5 linked regions of the Homo sapiens genome follow. The gene in region 3 interacts genetically with the main gene of each other region. Each region holds a gene or a part of one and is shown on either strand. Other genes may lie near its edges. The genes, in order: NDUFB2, EMC2, METTL17, MRPL22 and GNL3L.

Region 1 (3,589 bases), on a different chromosome or scaffold from region 3:
CCTGGTGGAGGTTCAAGGGCTCCCGGTGAAGGCAGCTTCAGTGATTGATTGCTTAGCTTCCAGGCCTTGTTTTTACTTGAATTTTGCTCTTGGTGGATTCCTTCCTTTTGTGCCTGGTCAGTGATGTTTGTAAAAATCTTAAAAATCTCATCTAGCAGCAGAGTTGTTAATTTGGAGGGTTGTTCAGGGTATCTAGTTTGCCACAATGCAGTTCACAACCTGGTTTGGAACATAACATTGTGAATTAGGTGTTGAGTCTTTGCATTCCTTAATCATGGCAATCCTTGTCATTGTTCCTGTGATATAATTGCAGACTTTCAAATCTTTGTTCCAAAAGGTTTCCATTTTGCAGTCCCTACTTCAGGTTATGATTAAAACAACATGTCACTCTAGCAATAACGAAGCGTGGGGAGCTGCTAAGATGGGTTTGAACTATAATGCTGGCATCGGCATTACTCAGATCTTTTTTGTTTTTTTGATACAGAATTTCGCTCTTGTTGCCCAGGCTGGAGTGCAATGGCACGATCTCAGCTCACCACATCCTCTGTCTCCCAGGTTCAAGTGATTCTCCTGCTTCAGCCTCCTGAGTAGCTGGGATTACATGCATGTACCACCATGCCCAGCTAATTTTGTATTTTTAGTAGAGACGAGGTTTTTCCACGTTGGTCAGGGTGGTCTCGAACTCCCGACCTCAGGTGATCCGCCTGCCTCGGCCTCCCAAAATGCTGGGATTACAGGCATAAGCCACCGTGTCCGGCCTTCAAATCTTGTTTTAATCAGTTTTACTGCTGGGCACTTATACCTAGATTGTATCAAAAAGCTATCAAAGAAGAAGGCTCTTGGCCGGGCACAGTGTGGCTCACGCCTATAATCCCAGCACTTTGGGAGGTCAGGGCAGGCGGATCACCTGAGGTCAGGAGTTCGAGACCAGCCTGGCCAACATAACGAATCCCTGTATCTACTAAAAATACAAAAATTAGCCGGGCATGGTGGCACATGCCTGTAATCCCAGCTACTCGGGAGGCTGAGGCAGGAGAATTGCTCGAACTGGGAGGCAGAGGTTGCAGTGAGCCAAGATTGTGTCACTGCACTCCAGCCTGGGTGACAGAGTGCGACTCCGTCTCAAAAAAAAAAAAAAGCTCTTGTTATACTATATTGAATGATCCTGCATGGTTTATTTACATAATGTAATATCTATATGCACAGCTAGATCCTGAATGAATAATATAATTGGTATATGAGGACATTACGGAAACAGTATGCTACGTCATTCAAGTTGTAAAGTGGCGATATTTGGTAGGACCTTTTAAACATGATACTTAAAAAAGTACATATATACACACATCTGCAAAAACTAAAAATCACCTTATTCATAATTAGTTATTAATACCTTAAATAGAGCATTCCAAATAAAAGTGTTAAATTTTGGATGACTATTTAGAAAAAAAAATGGAATTTATCATTTCAATATGGTAACATTGGTTTTATCATGCTGGTTGGAATTCTAGTTAAAAGTTATGTCTTTGATTAATAAAAGGAGAAAATTGTTAATGGTGTGTGTCTGTAGGCAACAGCTTAGGCTTTGCCATCACACAGCATCTCACTGGTAAATCATTAATAATTACAGGCCTTATCATAACATTATGAAAATTAAATGAATTAAAACTTATAAAATGCTTAGTGTGGTATCTGGCACATGGTAAACACTCAATAACTACCAGTCATCTTTTAGAGTGGGGGAGGATAAAAACAGTCTGCCAGCCTGGCAACATAGGGAAACCCTGTCTCTACAAAAAAAATATAAAAATTAGCCAGGTCTGGGGGTGTACACTTGTATGTAATCCCAGCTACTTGGGAGGGAGGCTGAGGCAGGAGGATTGCTTGAGCCCAGGAGGTGCTCAGTCAGCAGAAGGATCGCTTGAGCTAAGGTCACGCCACTGCACTCTAGCCTGGGCGACAGAGCCTATCTTTAAAAAAACAAACAAAACAGCCGGGCACGTGGCTCACGCCTGTAATCCCAGCACTTTGGGAGGCCAAGGTGGGTGGATCACCTAAGGTCAGGAGTTCGAGACCAGTCTGGCCAACACGGGGAAACCCCGTCTCTACTAAAAAAAAAACAAAAATTAGCTGGGCATGGTGGCGTACACCTGTAGTCCCAGCTACTTGGGAGGCTGAGGCAGGAGGATCGCTTGAACCCAGGAGGCGGAGGTTGCAGTGAGCCAAGATTGTTCCATTGCACTCCAGCCTGGGTGACAGAGTGAGACTCTCGCAAACAAACAAACAAAGAAAACAAACAGTCCTAGCTAACATGTATCAAGAACCACTGCCCTGTTACTGTTCACGAATCTGTGCATTATGAAGACAAGATATTTTAATGCACTTTTCCTACAGGTACGAATTTCTGTGCTACATAAAAGAGAATATGGTTTACAAGCTGATTCTTATCTAGATGAAATTGGTAAACATATTTTATATAGGAATTCTCTTAAAAATTTTTTATCCACTTCTGTTTATTAGCATATATATGGCTGATGAATAGGTTTTAGGAATAGCCCCAGTAGGTGCAAATAATTTAAATTAGATGCAACGTATAATATTTATACTCCAACTGAATAAATTGACTATAACTCTTATGGACTCTGTGCCACAACTTGTCAAGTGTCTGAATGAAAAGAAGAAAAAAGAAACACGTATTCAAACTTACTGTTTAAAGTTCTTTGTTCAGAGCCATTAGCATATTTAATAGGATTTGCGAGTCCTCTCTCCCATATGGTTGTCTTTTAATAAAGATTGTAATAGGCAGAGGACATAATTTGCCTCAAATAGATAGCTAAACAAAGCAAAATTAATTTATTTTTCTGAGTAAGTTAGTGACCTGCTAACAAGTTCACAGTCCCTTAACTAAAACCTTTGGGGCTAGCACCCCAGAATCAACACATTCAAATTTCTAGTGCAAAATAATGAATCTTCACTAATTGAAAACCAAAATTAGCCTCTTGTCAGTTTTGGTCAGTTTTTGCTGCTACACATGAAGCAAGCTTAGTAAAAAGTGAGTATTTCAAGGGATTGTGAACTTCTGTCTATATTTCAGTGGAGATGAGAAACATTAGCGTTGGTTCTAGGATGTAACTCAGAGGAGTTTTGGATGACTTAACGCTTTGAGAATGTAGCACGCTGTCTGCCATGTTGTTTTGTCTTGCAGTGCCGGTGGTGGTGTGCACATTGAGCCCCGGTATAGACAGTTCCCCCAGCTGACCAGATCCCAGGTGTTCCAGAGCGAGTTCTTCAGCGGACTCATGTGGTTCTGGATTCTCTGGCGCTTTTGGCATGACTCAGAAGAGGTGCTGGTAAGTGCAGGAGAAGAGCACTTGTCGTTTTTTGGGTGGGGGAGGGAGGATGTATTAATAGCTTGTTTATTTTTCTGTTGTAGACCATTTTTCTGTCTGGACATCGCCCTTTGCCACCACTTTTTCCATATGTATATACAAGAATCCTGTTATTTAATGAAACATGTTATCTTCTCACCTTTTTTTACACGAGGATGTATATTTAGGTGGTCCGTTTCTTATGGTTTCTGTTAGGTTGCCAT
Region 2 (3,589 bases), on a different chromosome or scaffold from region 3:
TCAGGATTCAGCTACAGAAACTAATCTAATGGTTTAGAGTGTAGGAAGTGAGGGAATCATAATGTTAAGCTGTAGCCAGAGGGGTCAGAGACAGGTTACCAATTCCTGAAGCTTGTTACTTCTATGATGTTACCTGTGTTTGATCACTTAATCTTTCTGAACAGGTCATGAGAAGTTTGCCAAATTAAGTTAATTACAGAAGACAAGAAACACATCATAAATCAAGTACTAAGTGCTTAAGACAGCATTGTTACTTGAAGAAATGATCATTCACTTGAAAATGTATTGAGTGGTTTGATGTTAACTTGAAAACACTAGATGTTGCTAATACCAAGTATTTTAATCATATTTAACCAGGGAGAAAATGGGTAACATATATATATATAAAATATATACATAATATATAATTAATATATATACATATATATAATATATATAGGTAACATATATATATAAAATATATACATAATATATAATTAATATATATACATATATATAATATATATATGTATATATATATACACACACACACACATACACACACAATAAACTTTCTCCCATCTCCATCAAGGAACACTTACTTATCTAGTAAATCTTTTGTTTTAAATCAGACTGATAAATGATGGGAATTGTCAGTCCAGTTAACAAACTCATTTTGAAATCAGCATGTGGTATTCAACAGTGTTTCCCTCCAGCGGTTATGTGTATGATATTGAATTTAATATGCCATGAATTTGCTTTTAAATACACAAATATAGGGTATATTTTGTGTATATATTGATGTATTTATTTTGTTTTCATAGTAAAATCCAATCCCAATTAGTTTTATAATGTAAATAAATTACAATTAATAAAGTAGAAATGCATATTTTAAAACATGTTTACATTGTTTTAATGTGTAGCATAGGTTTTTACTTGACAGCTCTTTGCAGAACCATATCATTTAGTTAACTAATAAATCTGGAAACTTAAAAAAAATTATGAGCTACTTTAAATAATTTTAGAGAGTACTTGCAACTTTAAAATGTTTAGTGAAATAACTTGTATTTGTATTGTACCTTTGTTTGAAATTGTAAAAATCTGTTTAGACATCAGACAAGTGGAAGTGGTTCACACTGCTACACTACATAAATATAAGCTAAATTGCATTTTAAAATTATACTTTTTATTTCATTATTTTGGTCTGAATAAGATAGTTTCAAATACATGATTTTATGGGTTATTATATTATGTAAACACTTAAACTGGCCAAGTGTGCAGTGAACTCTCTGTACACTTCAGCTGAAGGTAAGACCTTAAAGGAAAATGTCCTTAATACTCAAATTTTATTCTTATTGAAAAAGCAAAGAATATATTTGATTTCCTACTAGTGATAAAATAGTCAATGTTAAGTTTCATTAACAGTGTGAAGATTGTCATTTTTAACCTGCCACTGAAATTGAGCCTAATTGAGCTTTTTTTTTTTTTTTTTAATTAGTTTGCAGGTCGAAGTAAGAAGGAAACCAAATATTCTCTTAAGGCTGTCGAAGACATGTTGGAAACATTGCAGATCACCCAGTCTTAAGGTTTCAAAAACTCTTTGACATTAGATTTCACAACTGCACAATTGAACTTATTGGCCTGTAACTTATTTACTAAATGCTCAGTGCTATTTATATACTACAGTAATTTTCTGTTAAGAAGGCAGTTGTAAAGAATGTGTTTATATAAACCTAAAAATGCCTTTTACTGCTAAGTGGGGAGATGGGGGAAATCCATGGAAGAGAGATTTAAGACTTATTGATTGTACATCAGTCTCTTCATATCACATATACATGTATATATATAAAACTCTAATGTAGTATAACCTTGTTAAATAAACCATGATGATTTATTAAACTTGCATATGAAGATTCTAACTTCATTTTGTTATACTCACAGTGGATATATTGTTTAAGAACTCAGTTTCTAGTTAACTCCTTACTGGTGATAGCAAAGTCACAGCATATGTAGCTGACCGAAGCAGATTATTTTGACTTTGTTTATATTGTCGAATTGGATTTTGCTGTACATTCCAGTGGGCTATTTGAATTGTTTTATCTGCTGTAATATCCTTCTGATGAATCTTGCTTAAAATATGTCATTCTCCAAAGTTCAGCAATATTTCTTTGTAAAATTTTTGTTTTGATATAGGACATAATTGAGATTTTTACATATAAAATGCCTTAAGATAAATATGTGTTACGACACTTTAACTTTTATGCAAGTTATATTTATTGAATCCTTTAATAGTAAATTACATGAAAGAATATTAAAGAATCATAAAGAGTAGGGATTAAAGGGGTTGTAGTTATTTTTAATTTTGAAAAAAATAAGAAAATTAAAACTATCCTTAGAAACAAAAATGTTAAAATTTTCCTATTCTATCATTACCTTAGTTAGAATTTTTTATTTTTCTCTTTTCATAATAAACAACCATTATGCTACCTTCAACAGTATTTGACATGTTTCAACAAAATAGAAGAGACTTGAAAGTTAAATTTCATTTAGACACAAATCAGTTTTTAAAATAGCAACTGTTCACCGCAAATATTTATGGTATTTGTTTATAATAAATATATTTAAATTTATTTTTACTAAAAATATACAGAGGCATCTACAGACTTGTCATTGCTGCTTTGGACAAGTGGGGATTGTGGAGGAATTGACAATCTAGAAGTGTTTAGAAAGAAAAGTATTGTCAATATCAGCTTCTTTTAACCTTTTGAATAGTTCTGCTAATAAATTATTCTCCATATCTAGTCTAATCTTTCATATTACAGTCATTTTCGTTTTATTCTGCCACGAGTAATAGGCAGCTGATTAATATATTCTGTGAAAGAACTCTTCTCATCTGAAGGTAATTCTCTACTAATCTTTATTACCACAAAGATCCCGTCTTTGTACACATGAAATTAGTAACTGCATTTTCAACATGATGAACCATTTGAAATTTACATTTTCTGTAAAGAAAATAGTGCCTGCACGTTGTTTCACTACCTTTTCCCCTTCAAACCTCCTCCCCGTCAGTCACTGGATTAGTGTTTACTCTAGCAATTATATTTGTGTAATAAGTAATTCAGTGCCTCTTATAGCTGTCTGCCTTAGTTTCACTTTTTTTTTTTTTTTTTTGAGACAGTCTCGTTCTGTCACCCAGGCTGGAGTGCAGTGACGTGATCGCAGCTCACTGCAACCTCCTCCCGGGTTCAAGCGATTCTTGTGCCTCAGCCTCTGAGTAGCTGGGACTACAGGCATGTGCCACCATGCCTGGCTAATTTTGTATTTTTAGTAGAGATGGGGTTTCACCATGTTGGCCAGGCTGGTCTGAAACTCCTGGCCTCAAGTGATCTACCCGCCTCAGCCTCCCGAAATGCTGGGATTACAGGCATGAGCCACTGAGCCTGGCCAGTATCACTTTATTTTTTCAAAATTTTAATAACTTCTTTCCAAGATTTTATATTTGTTAAGCACATTGCCAATCCTTAGTTATTTATAAACTTCAACTTAAATGTACTGATAATCCCATTACAGCAGGCAGTTGCCTACAGCTATTACCTTTATTTCTTCTTTA
Region 3 (2,367 bases):
CTGTGACCCAAGAAAGGTTTAGAATCACTATTTTAGGAGATTCTTATCCCATAAGGTATTTGTATTGAATCTCAAAAGGCATTCACATCTCACATCCTCTGTGATAGCCTCCTAATTCACATTTATCAAGGTCCTAAATAAGTATCTAATTACCCTACTGTGGGATGTTGTATATTTCTTCAGATCCGGGCTCGAAATCCAGCATTTCAGCCACAAACTTTGATGGACTTTGGCTCAGGTACTGGTTCTGTCACCTGGTGAGTAACTTTCTTCAGCCCTATCTTGGTCAATTTTAGCTCTAGAAAGCCATACTTACACCACTCCAAAATTAACAGACTGGAAAACCAGAGGGAGAATAGGCAAGTTGGGAATCTATAATGTTTCTTCCATCAGATTAGGCAAGGCAGAAGAAGGTATATGGATTGGGGCCAGAACTTAAAAGAAATGTCAAGTAAAAAAAGGCGCATGTGTAGAAAAATTAAAAAGAAAAGGAATTATCAATCAAAGTTGTTTTTGCCTACAAATAGTATTTTGAGTCTACCTTTTTTTTTTCTTTTTTGAAACGGTGTCTCACTCTGTCGCCCAGGCTGGAGTGCAGTGGCACAATCTCGGCTCACTGCAGCCTCCACTCCTGGGTTCAAGTGATTCTCCTGCCTCACCCTCCCGAGTAGCTGGGACTACAGGTGCACGCCACCACACCCAGCTAATTTTTGTATTTTTAGTAGAGACGGGGTTTCACCATATTGGCCAGGCTGGTCTCTAACTCCTGACCTTGTGATCCGCCCACCTTGGCCTCCCAAAGTGCTGGGATTACAAGCATGAGCCACTGTGCCCAGCTGAGTCTACCTTTTTTTTTTTAGGAGTTGTAAATAAAACAAGAAAATAACACTATTAGTTATTTTATTACTAACTATACAACTACTTTAACATAACACTCTCTTTTCCCAGGGGTGGGGTTGGGTGTAAATGGGCCTCTTGTAGAGATGACTCTTGGTCATGGGAATTGGTGATTTATAATAATTTTGCCATCTTAGGGCTGCTCACAGTATTTGGGGCCAGAGCCTACGTGAATATATGTGTGTGGACAGATCAGCTGCCATGTTGGTTTTGGCAGAAAAACTACTGAAAGGTGAGTGCAAGAGCACTTCCAAAGTTGAGGGAGTTAAGAAAGCAAAGGGGTACTAGTAAAAGTGTTTTACTGGGAAGTAGAGAAGAGGGTAAAAATTAAGATGAATCTGGTTTACTTTTAAAGTTATAGTCAAGCAAAGGGTGGTATTAGAGGTTTCTGCTGGACTGAGGATGGGTTGGGTAAGAATCAAAGGACAGGAGGCCTAATATTCTCCCTGCCCTTTTTTTTTTTTTTTTAATTAGAGGTAGGGTCTCCATATGTTACCCAGGCTGGTCTCAAACTCCTGGCCTCAAGCCATCCTCCCACTTCAGCCTCTAGGGTAGCTGGGATTACAGGCACGCACCGCCATACCTGGCTCATCCCTGCCCTTTTTGATATACACTTTACCTATTCTTGGGGCCATGTTTCTTATCTGGATATCTCTTCAGTTTATACCTAACTTCCTACACACTCACAGTTGCCTCTTCTTTTCTCCACAGGTGGTTCAGAATCTGGGGAGCCTTATATTCCAGGTGTCTTTTTCAGACAGTTTCTACCTGTATCACCCAAGGCAAGTGGCAGTGTTTAGAATATTCTAAATGTGGAATGTGGCAGATGGAAAACTATGGCTTGAGCTTTGCAGCCCAGCACTGAGTGTTAGAAGATAAAAGAAATTTAGCGGCTAGGACTTTGTTGTATTCTTGGGATGTAGAGATGTTGAGTCTGTCATGTTCCTTGTCTTGGTCCTCAGGTGCAGTTTGATGTAGTAGTGTCAGCTTTTTCCTTAAGTGAACTGCCCAGCAAGGCTGACCGCACTGAGGTAGTTCAAACCTTATGGCGTAAGACAGGTCATTTCCTGGTGAGTTAAAATTCCTTGTTCTCCTTAAGTCTTGAAGCAGCTTCATGGATTTCATGCCTTTGCTCCTCTCATTGTCTTTATTCTTCACCATTTTTCTCCTTCATGGGTTTCTTTATCCCTCTTTGAGGGTCTCCATCCTGATTATGTAATGCCTATTTCTTTTTAGGACTCCTTCTCCCTCTATGATTGCTCTTACACAGCTACTGACATTTATACTTTCGTGTAATTCAAGTCTTCTGCATATTTTCCCCTTTTGTGAACAGGTACTGGTGGAGAATGGAACAAAAGCTGGGCACAGCCTTCTCATGGATGCCAGGGATCTGGTCCTTAAGGTAAGGCTTCTTCTTCCCTCACTCCCCCACCCATATGGCACCAATTACTGTTACTCTCTTGAAAACGA
Region 4 (3,589 bases), on a different chromosome or scaffold from region 3:
TTACTTTATTTGCTTGATACGTACTGAGACTTTGTCTCGTTTATCTTTAGAAAGTGCCCTTAGACATTTCACCTGCCCAAAGTAAATGCTGAGGTTTTTTTTCAGTTTTGGAAGAGGATGATTAACTTTTGCCTTTCTTGTAAACACTTCTTCCTTTTTGCCATCCTCTGGTCAGGATTACCATTGTTTATATGTGTAAAATTTGAGGGTAATCATACAAAATTAAGGTTTAAAATTATCCCACCACAAGAATGCACAAATTAAAGGGTCTCTTCTTTTTTATTTTTATTTTTTTGAGACGGAGTCTCGCTCTGTCGCCCAGGCTGGAGTGCAGTGGCGCAATCTCAGCTCACTACAAGCTCCACCTCCCGGGTTCATGGCATTCTCCCGCCTCAGCCTCCCGGGTAGCTGGGACCACAGGCGCCGGCCACCATGCCCGGCTAATTTTTTTTTTTTGTATTTTTAGTAGAGACGGGGTTTCACCATTCACAGGATGGTCTCGATCTCCTGACCTTGTGATCCGGCCGCCTCGGCCTCCCAAAGTGCTGGGATTACAGGCTGAGCCACTGCTCCCGGCCAAGGGTCTCTTCTATATGAAAGATTTCATTGAGTGGATTAATTTTTGCAGATTATTATTATCAGTCATGATAGTTCTTTCCTCTCCCTGTCTCCCCAAGAAACTTTATTGCTGAAAATGTAATTAGGCTATTGCTATAGTTTCAGGCTGTCTGCTTCTATTGCAACTGAAATCTGCCACATATTAAAAGATGGCCACTTGAGAAAACTGCTCTTTCTAAGGCATTTGAAAATTTCCAGCAGGAGTCAGAATGTTAGAAAGTTTTGAGACCTCCTTGCTATAGTTTTCCATAACACATGTTTTCTAATTTTTTTTTAAATGGCAGTTTGGTATAGTAGTGGAAAGAAAGTGGGTTTTAGAGTCAATAGAGGAACTTTTGAAAGTAGATGTGCTAGACATTGTATCAGGTGTATCATACTTCTCTGTTCTTTGAATTCCAACTTTGTCTCTTGCAAACCTCTGGTCTTAGACAAGTCACTTGATTTCTCTGATTTTCAGTTTATATGTAAAATGTTTCATCCCTCAACTCATAGAGTTAGACTAAATGAAATAATGAGTGAAAAGTGCTTTTTGAACTATACATTGTAATTAAACAGGACATACCTACAACTTTAAATAGAAGATAATAAAAGCTAACATTTACTGAGAAGTTACCATGTGCCAAGCACTATAAAATGGTTTCTTGAAATAGGTTACTTTATTTCCCTCTAATTATCGTTTTATTTATTTTACAGAAGAGGAAAATTAGAGAGAGGTTAAGTAGCTTGCTCAAGATTATGTAGCTAGTAAATGGCAGAGTTAGGATTCAAATCCAGGCAGGCAGTCTGATTCTAGAACCTATGCTGTTGGCCAAACACCTAGAATATTGGCTTTTCACATGAAAACACTTGTCCATTTTGCCATTTTTCTCCTCATTAATAATGAACGTTTTCTTGTACTTTTTCTTTTGTTCTTTTAATCAGCTAAATGTTTTAAAGATACTTTCATTTAAATCTTTTAGGATTTCTTTGGATAGAAATGTTGCAAGTGTTGACACAAACCAGCCATTGTATAGTTTCTATTTCTCCCGTAGTAATCTTTTAACATAGTGAGACTTTGGAAAAATACAACTTTGTGTAGGGGAAAATAATCTCTAAATTCTTAGTAATGTTTCTATTTCTTATGGCAGCATTTTCTTTAGGCCTAGAAAGTAAAAACTTAAATAACAGTATATGTTATTGTCATTTTGTGGTAAACCTGCTAACATTTTCTTTCTGTCCTTTTTTTTCCAATTTGTAAGGAAATCTACCACTGTCGAAGACAAATAAAATATAGCAAAGACAAGATGTGGTATTTGGCAAAATTGGTAAGCTGCAATGACTATTACCATATAATTAATAATTTAGGAAAGAAGCTATGAGTTCCCCTCCCCACCCCTCACCCCAGGATTTGAAAAATAAAAAAGATTTGTGAGGAATGTGATATAATTGGTAGGTTGTCAAAAGAATGATTGTTCAGAGATGTATGATTTTCCTTAATTTTCACCTTTTTCTGAGAAACTAAATCACATTGGATAGATAGATACTAAAAGGCATCAGGAGTTTGGCTATAACCAGAGAATCCAGGAAACCCACCTATTTATCTGTAAACTTGATTCAACCTGTTTTAAAACTGTTGCTTTTAAGTTTTTTTCCCTAGGAAATGAAATTTATAGATGAGGGGAGACTGAAGCAGCAAATATACATGTAATACATTTATCCTATAGGAGAAGGAGATGCCTTGAATGCCTAGTGTGGTTGTTACCAACCTGTGGTCTCTCTGTCATGTTTGCTGTCTTTTAATGTTATTGAAACTATTATAATCTCAGTTTTATGGTTAAAATGTTTGTTTCATTTTGACTGAAAGAGAATAGTGTCTCCTCTCAAACTTGTTTTCTTCTCTTTTATTTGGGTTCAATTCACTGTTTTTAGAAGTTACTCAAATTATGTAAGACTTTCATTGAAAAGGAAACATTGACTTTGTAAACTAATTTATTTTCTTTTGTCTCTCACCCTTTAATTCTAGATACGAGGAATGTCTATTGACCAGGCTTTGGCTCAGTTGGAATTCAATGACAAAAAAGGGGCCAAAATAATTAAAGAGGTAAACTTACAAGTTTGGGTGTGGTAGGGAATGGGGAACTGGGGAATGCAGCTGTCTTGCAATTATTAGTAAGCTTAGCCTAAATCATGAATTCCCTAAATTTTCTGTTGTAAATGCATACTTTATATAATACAGATTTAGGGTTCTCAGTTTATTAAATATGTGTATACTTTAGGAATGTTGTGTGCTTTAGGGTTTATTTCCTGAGGTGCTTTTATTTCCACCAAATATTTATCTGTTTTTTACTGCTTATGATGTGATGAATCTTATTTTTAATGATTTGGGGCTTGGTACGTATATGTGTGTATTTGTGTGTATGTATGTGTGTTTGTGTATATAATTTATTTCTTGGAGCAAGGCTGAACTTCAAGGTATATTTTTTTGAAGATTTTTTTTTTCCTATAAAGGAGAGTTTTTATAACTAAGTAATTTTGTAACTAAATGGAAAGAGCCCTGGACTGGAACTCAAGAGACTTGGACTCTAGTCCTTTCTCTGATCTTTTTCTTGTGACCGTGGGCAAGACACTTAACCAGTCAGTTTCTATTTTTCTCACCTAAACTATGTGGAATTGGATTAGATGACCCCTAAAGATCCTTCCAACTCTAAATGTAGCTAATTCACTAGATACAAATGTGCTGATGGTAATTGTGGTGACTCTTTCTAGGAACATGAATATTCTTTTTTTATTACATATATTTTTCTTTTTTTTTTTTTTTTTTTTGAGACGGAGTCTAGCTCTGTTGCACAGGCTGGGGTGCAGTGGCGCCATCTTGGCTCACTGCAGTCTCCGCCTCCTGCGTTCAAGCGATTCTTCTGCCTCAGCCTCCCGAGTAGCTGGGACTACAGCTGCGCGCCACCATACGCGGCTAATATTTTTGTATTTTTAGTAG
Region 5 (3,374 bases), on a different chromosome or scaffold from region 3:
CTACTAAAAATACAAAAATTAGCTGGGCGTGGTGGCGGGCGCCCATAATCCCAGCTACTCGGGAGGCTGAGGCAGGAGAACCGCTTGAACCCTGGAGGCGGAGGTTGCAGTGAACCGAGATCACGCCACTGCACCACTCCAGCCTGGACAACAGAGCTAGACTCTGTCTCAAAAAAAAAAAAAAAAAAAAGAGAACGAAGAAAAAAACCAGTGACTGCCAGGGTTTGGGTGTAGGGGACTGGTTTTGACTACAAAGTAGCAGGAATAAATTTGGTAGGGAGAGGCTAAGAGGACTGTTCTGTACCTTGGTTGCATTGGTGGTTACACAACTCTACACATTTATCAGAGCTTTATAGAACTGTATACCAGAGTGAATTTTACTGTAATGTAAATGTTTATAATTTTTAAAACCTGAAGGCATAAAATAAGCCTACTCATTGTATGATTCTATTGATATGACAGTCATACTAAAGCAAAACTATAGGGGCAGAAAACAAATCAGTGGTTAGCAGAATCTGAGGGTCGGGGGTAGGAGTTGACTACAAAAGGGCCTGGAGAGTTTTAGGGGGGTGATGCAACTATATTTCGATTGTGGTAGTGGTTCACTCCTGTATATGTTTGTACAAACTCACATAACTAAAACTATAAAGAGTGAACTTTACTATATGTAAATTGTACCCTAATTGTTTTGAAAAATGAAGGTAAAAAGTTAAGAAAATACTTTTTTAAAAAAAACCTTTGAGATATGCTGTAGGTAGAGAAACTGCACTCCCAACGTCTTTTTTGTTTTCCTCTTTTTTTTTCCCCCTGAGACAGTCTCACTCTGTTGCCCACGCTGGAGAGCAGTGGCACAATCTCGGCTCAATGCAGCATCGACCTCCTGGGCTCAAGAGATCCTCCTGCCTCAGCCCCATAGGTAGCTGGGACTACAGGCATGAGACACCATGCCCAGCTAATCTTTGTATTTTTTTGGTAGAGATGAGGTTTCGCCATATTGTTTAGGCTGGTCTTGAACTCCTGACCTCAAGTGATCCGCCTGCCTCGGCCTCCCAAAATGCTGGGATTACAGGTGAGAGCTATCGTAACTGGCCTGCAGTCCCAAATTCTTACCGACATGACTACTTTAGTTCTGTTTGATTTTGGCCAAATTATGCTCCCATGCTGTTTCTTACTCATTTAGATACTTCCATTTCTAATATTTACCTCCCAGCACTTCTCCATTACCGATGGGGTCACCTCCTGATAAACCCGTAATTTGCACATTACAATGGGTTTACCAGGAAGTAGCCCCATCATAAGTAGAGGTGCATTCTGAATGTATACTGCTTTTCCACCAAAAATCCCACATCAAACCACCAAAAGTCGGGGACTGTCTGTATTTTAAATGCTAAATTATGAAACGCTGTATGGTTGCAAAATAGACTTAGCTGTCCTGGTATGCAATTTTTCATTATAACACTATCACATACCAGGAGAGTTCAATGAGATAGTGTGAAATAAGTTGTAGCCTATTCAAGAGCACATAGTTTTAGCAAGACACTAAAAACTAGTAGTTTAAGAAACTAGAGTTTTTTAAACCAAAAAAGAAAAAATTTAACGTTAAATGCATTTAACGGACTTGATAACAGAGACTGGCACAAAGTAGGGGCTTAATCAATCTTCCTTTGTTAAGGAGGCAGTACAATATAGAGGAAAGGGCCTGCATAGGGTTTTAATCACGCTTGGGTTCCAATCCTAGCACCACCACTTAATACGCCCACTTGGGTCTGGCCATCCTGTCAACTTTTTTTTTTTTTTTCCGAGACGAAGTCTCACTCTGTCCCCCAGGCTGGAGTGCAGTGGTGTGATGTCGACTCACTGCAACCTCCGCCTCCTGAGATCAAGTGATTCTCCTGCCTCAGCCTCCTGCATAACTGGGATTACAGGTGTGAGCCACCATGCTCGGCCAACATTCTGAGATTACTTTTTTTTTTCATTTGGGGAGACGAATCCCTTACTAGCAGAGCTGTATTGAGGGTTAACGGTGGTAATGGGTCTCCAGGGCTTGGTGCAGTTTGTACTCAACAAGTACGTAATTCTCTCCTTTGGTTGCCCCTGAATACAAGAGTGGTCTTGTACTTCCCTGCCTGAACAGTCCACAGCCAATGGCACTCCAGTCCTTGTCACATGGTTCCACTCTTAGGATGTAAATTAGGAGGTACCAGCTTGAGAGGCAGAGGCAAAGGTAAGGTTAAGATGCAGCTGTGAGGCTGGGCACAGTGGCTCACGCCTATAATCCCAGCACTTTGGGAGGCCGAAGCGAGTGGATCACTTGAGGTCAAGAGTTCGAGACCAGCCTGGTCAACATGGTGAAACATCGTCTCTACTAAAAATACAAAAACTAGCCAGGCGTGGTGGCAGGTGCCTGTAATCCCAGCTACTTGGGAGGCTAAGGCAGGAGGATCACTTGAACCCGGGAGGCAGAGGTTGCAGTGAGCCGAGATCACGCCATTGCACTCCAGCCTGGGCAACAGAGCAAAATAAATAAATAAAGGTGCAGCTGTGGGTCGAAGGATGGTGTGGAAGTTTGGGGTAGACATCCAAGACTGCAGTAATGCTATGCCCAGGGTATATTTTGGGGCAAAACCCCCAAAATACCCTGGCAAAGAAAGAAGATTGTGTTTCAGTTGCAATCATCTACCCTAATCCCTTTCTGAGGGCCTCTGGCACTGCTTGGGCTCACTGCCCTTGTCTGATGGGGTAGGATCTCCCAGAGGAGACAGCTAATTATACTTTAATGAGGTGACTTACAGACACTGGAAAAGGAGTTGGCTGGTACACTCCCATATATAGCAGCTCTCTCGAGGATACAGTCTGTGAATAAATGGTACCAGAACCCTCTTGAGCCATGGAATTCAAATGCTGGTGCAATAGGAGACATGGTCACACAAGGGCAGGGTCCAGCCAGAGTACTTCAGTTAAAGAGATTCCTCCAATTCACAATCTGCCCAGAAATGCCCCCAAGACGGGGCTTCCCCCTAAAGCCTCCCTACTAACAGGTGCTTTGTTTTCTCTTCACGCAAACAGGGTAGTGCCTACCACACTTCAGCACAAGCCAGGCTTGTTTGTTCTCTTCTTCCCTCTACCCTATCCCTAGAACCTTCCAGAGACACAGGAGGCTCATTACTTTCTACTTTTTCTCACTGCCACCCAGGTGAAGACCTATGGACTTGGAAGATGCATGGCCCAAAGCCCACTGCAGGCATGCCTTGCCACTGAAATCTCCTGTGGGGTGGTAAAGAAACCATCACCCTCCCGCAGGGACCCCCAGGTCTACCAGCAACCTAACTTCTAGTGGCATATTCACCTGTCTAAGAGAGTTTTGTAGGCAGAGT

The links.
Region 1: changes in METTL17 (region 3) and NDUFB2 together harm fitness less than expected from each alone (positive genetic interaction), as found in Homo sapiens cells (one large-scale study listed by BioGRID).
Region 2: changes in METTL17 (region 3) and EMC2 together harm fitness more than expected from each alone (negative genetic interaction), as found in Homo sapiens cells (one large-scale study listed by BioGRID).
Region 4: changes in METTL17 (region 3) and MRPL22 together harm fitness less than expected from each alone (positive genetic interaction), as found in Homo sapiens cells (one large-scale study listed by BioGRID).
Region 5: changes in METTL17 (region 3) and GNL3L together harm fitness more than expected from each alone (negative genetic interaction), as found in Homo sapiens cells (one large-scale study listed by BioGRID).

The regions. Positions count from the first base shown.
Region 1 is NC_000007.14:140,699,664-140,703,252, forward strand, and holds part of NDUFB2 (NADH dehydrogenase [ubiquinone] 1 beta subcomplex subunit 2, mitochondrial precursor), read left to right. Parts: intron 1-3,202; coding exon 3,203-3,347; intron 3,348-3,589. UniProt on the Homo sapiens protein: Accessory subunit of the mitochondrial membrane respiratory chain NADH dehydrogenase (Complex I), that is believed not to be involved in catalysis. Complex I functions in the transfer of electrons from NADH to the respiratory chain.
Region 2 is NC_000008.11:108,485,035-108,488,623, forward strand, and holds part of EMC2 (ER membrane protein complex subunit 2), read left to right. Parts: intron 1-1,477; coding exon 1,478-1,564; 3' UTR 1,565-3,589. UniProt on the Homo sapiens protein: Part of the endoplasmic reticulum membrane protein complex (EMC) that enables the energy-independent insertion into endoplasmic reticulum membranes of newly synthesized membrane proteins.
Region 3 is NC_000014.9:20,992,935-20,995,301, forward strand, and holds part of METTL17 (ribosome assembly protein METTL17, mitochondrial isoform 2 precursor), read left to right. Parts: intron 1-183; coding exon 184-257; intron 258-1,034; coding exon 1,035-1,129; intron 1,130-1,608; coding exon 1,609-1,679; intron 1,680-1,859; coding exon 1,860-1,967; intron 1,968-2,230; coding exon 2,231-2,299; intron 2,300-2,367. UniProt on the Homo sapiens protein: Mitochondrial ribosome (mitoribosome) assembly factor. Binds at the interface of the head and body domains of the mitochondrial small ribosomal subunit (mt-SSU), occluding the mRNA channel and preventing compaction of the head domain towards the body.
Region 4 is NC_000005.10:154,954,515-154,958,103, forward strand, and holds part of MRPL22 (large ribosomal subunit protein uL22m), read left to right. Parts: intron 1-1,856; coding exon 1,857-1,922; intron 1,923-2,620; coding exon 2,621-2,698; intron 2,699-3,589.
Region 5 is NC_000023.11:54,561,219-54,564,592, reverse strand, and holds part of GNL3L (guanine nucleotide-binding protein-like 3-like protein), read right to left. Parts: 3' UTR 1-3,374.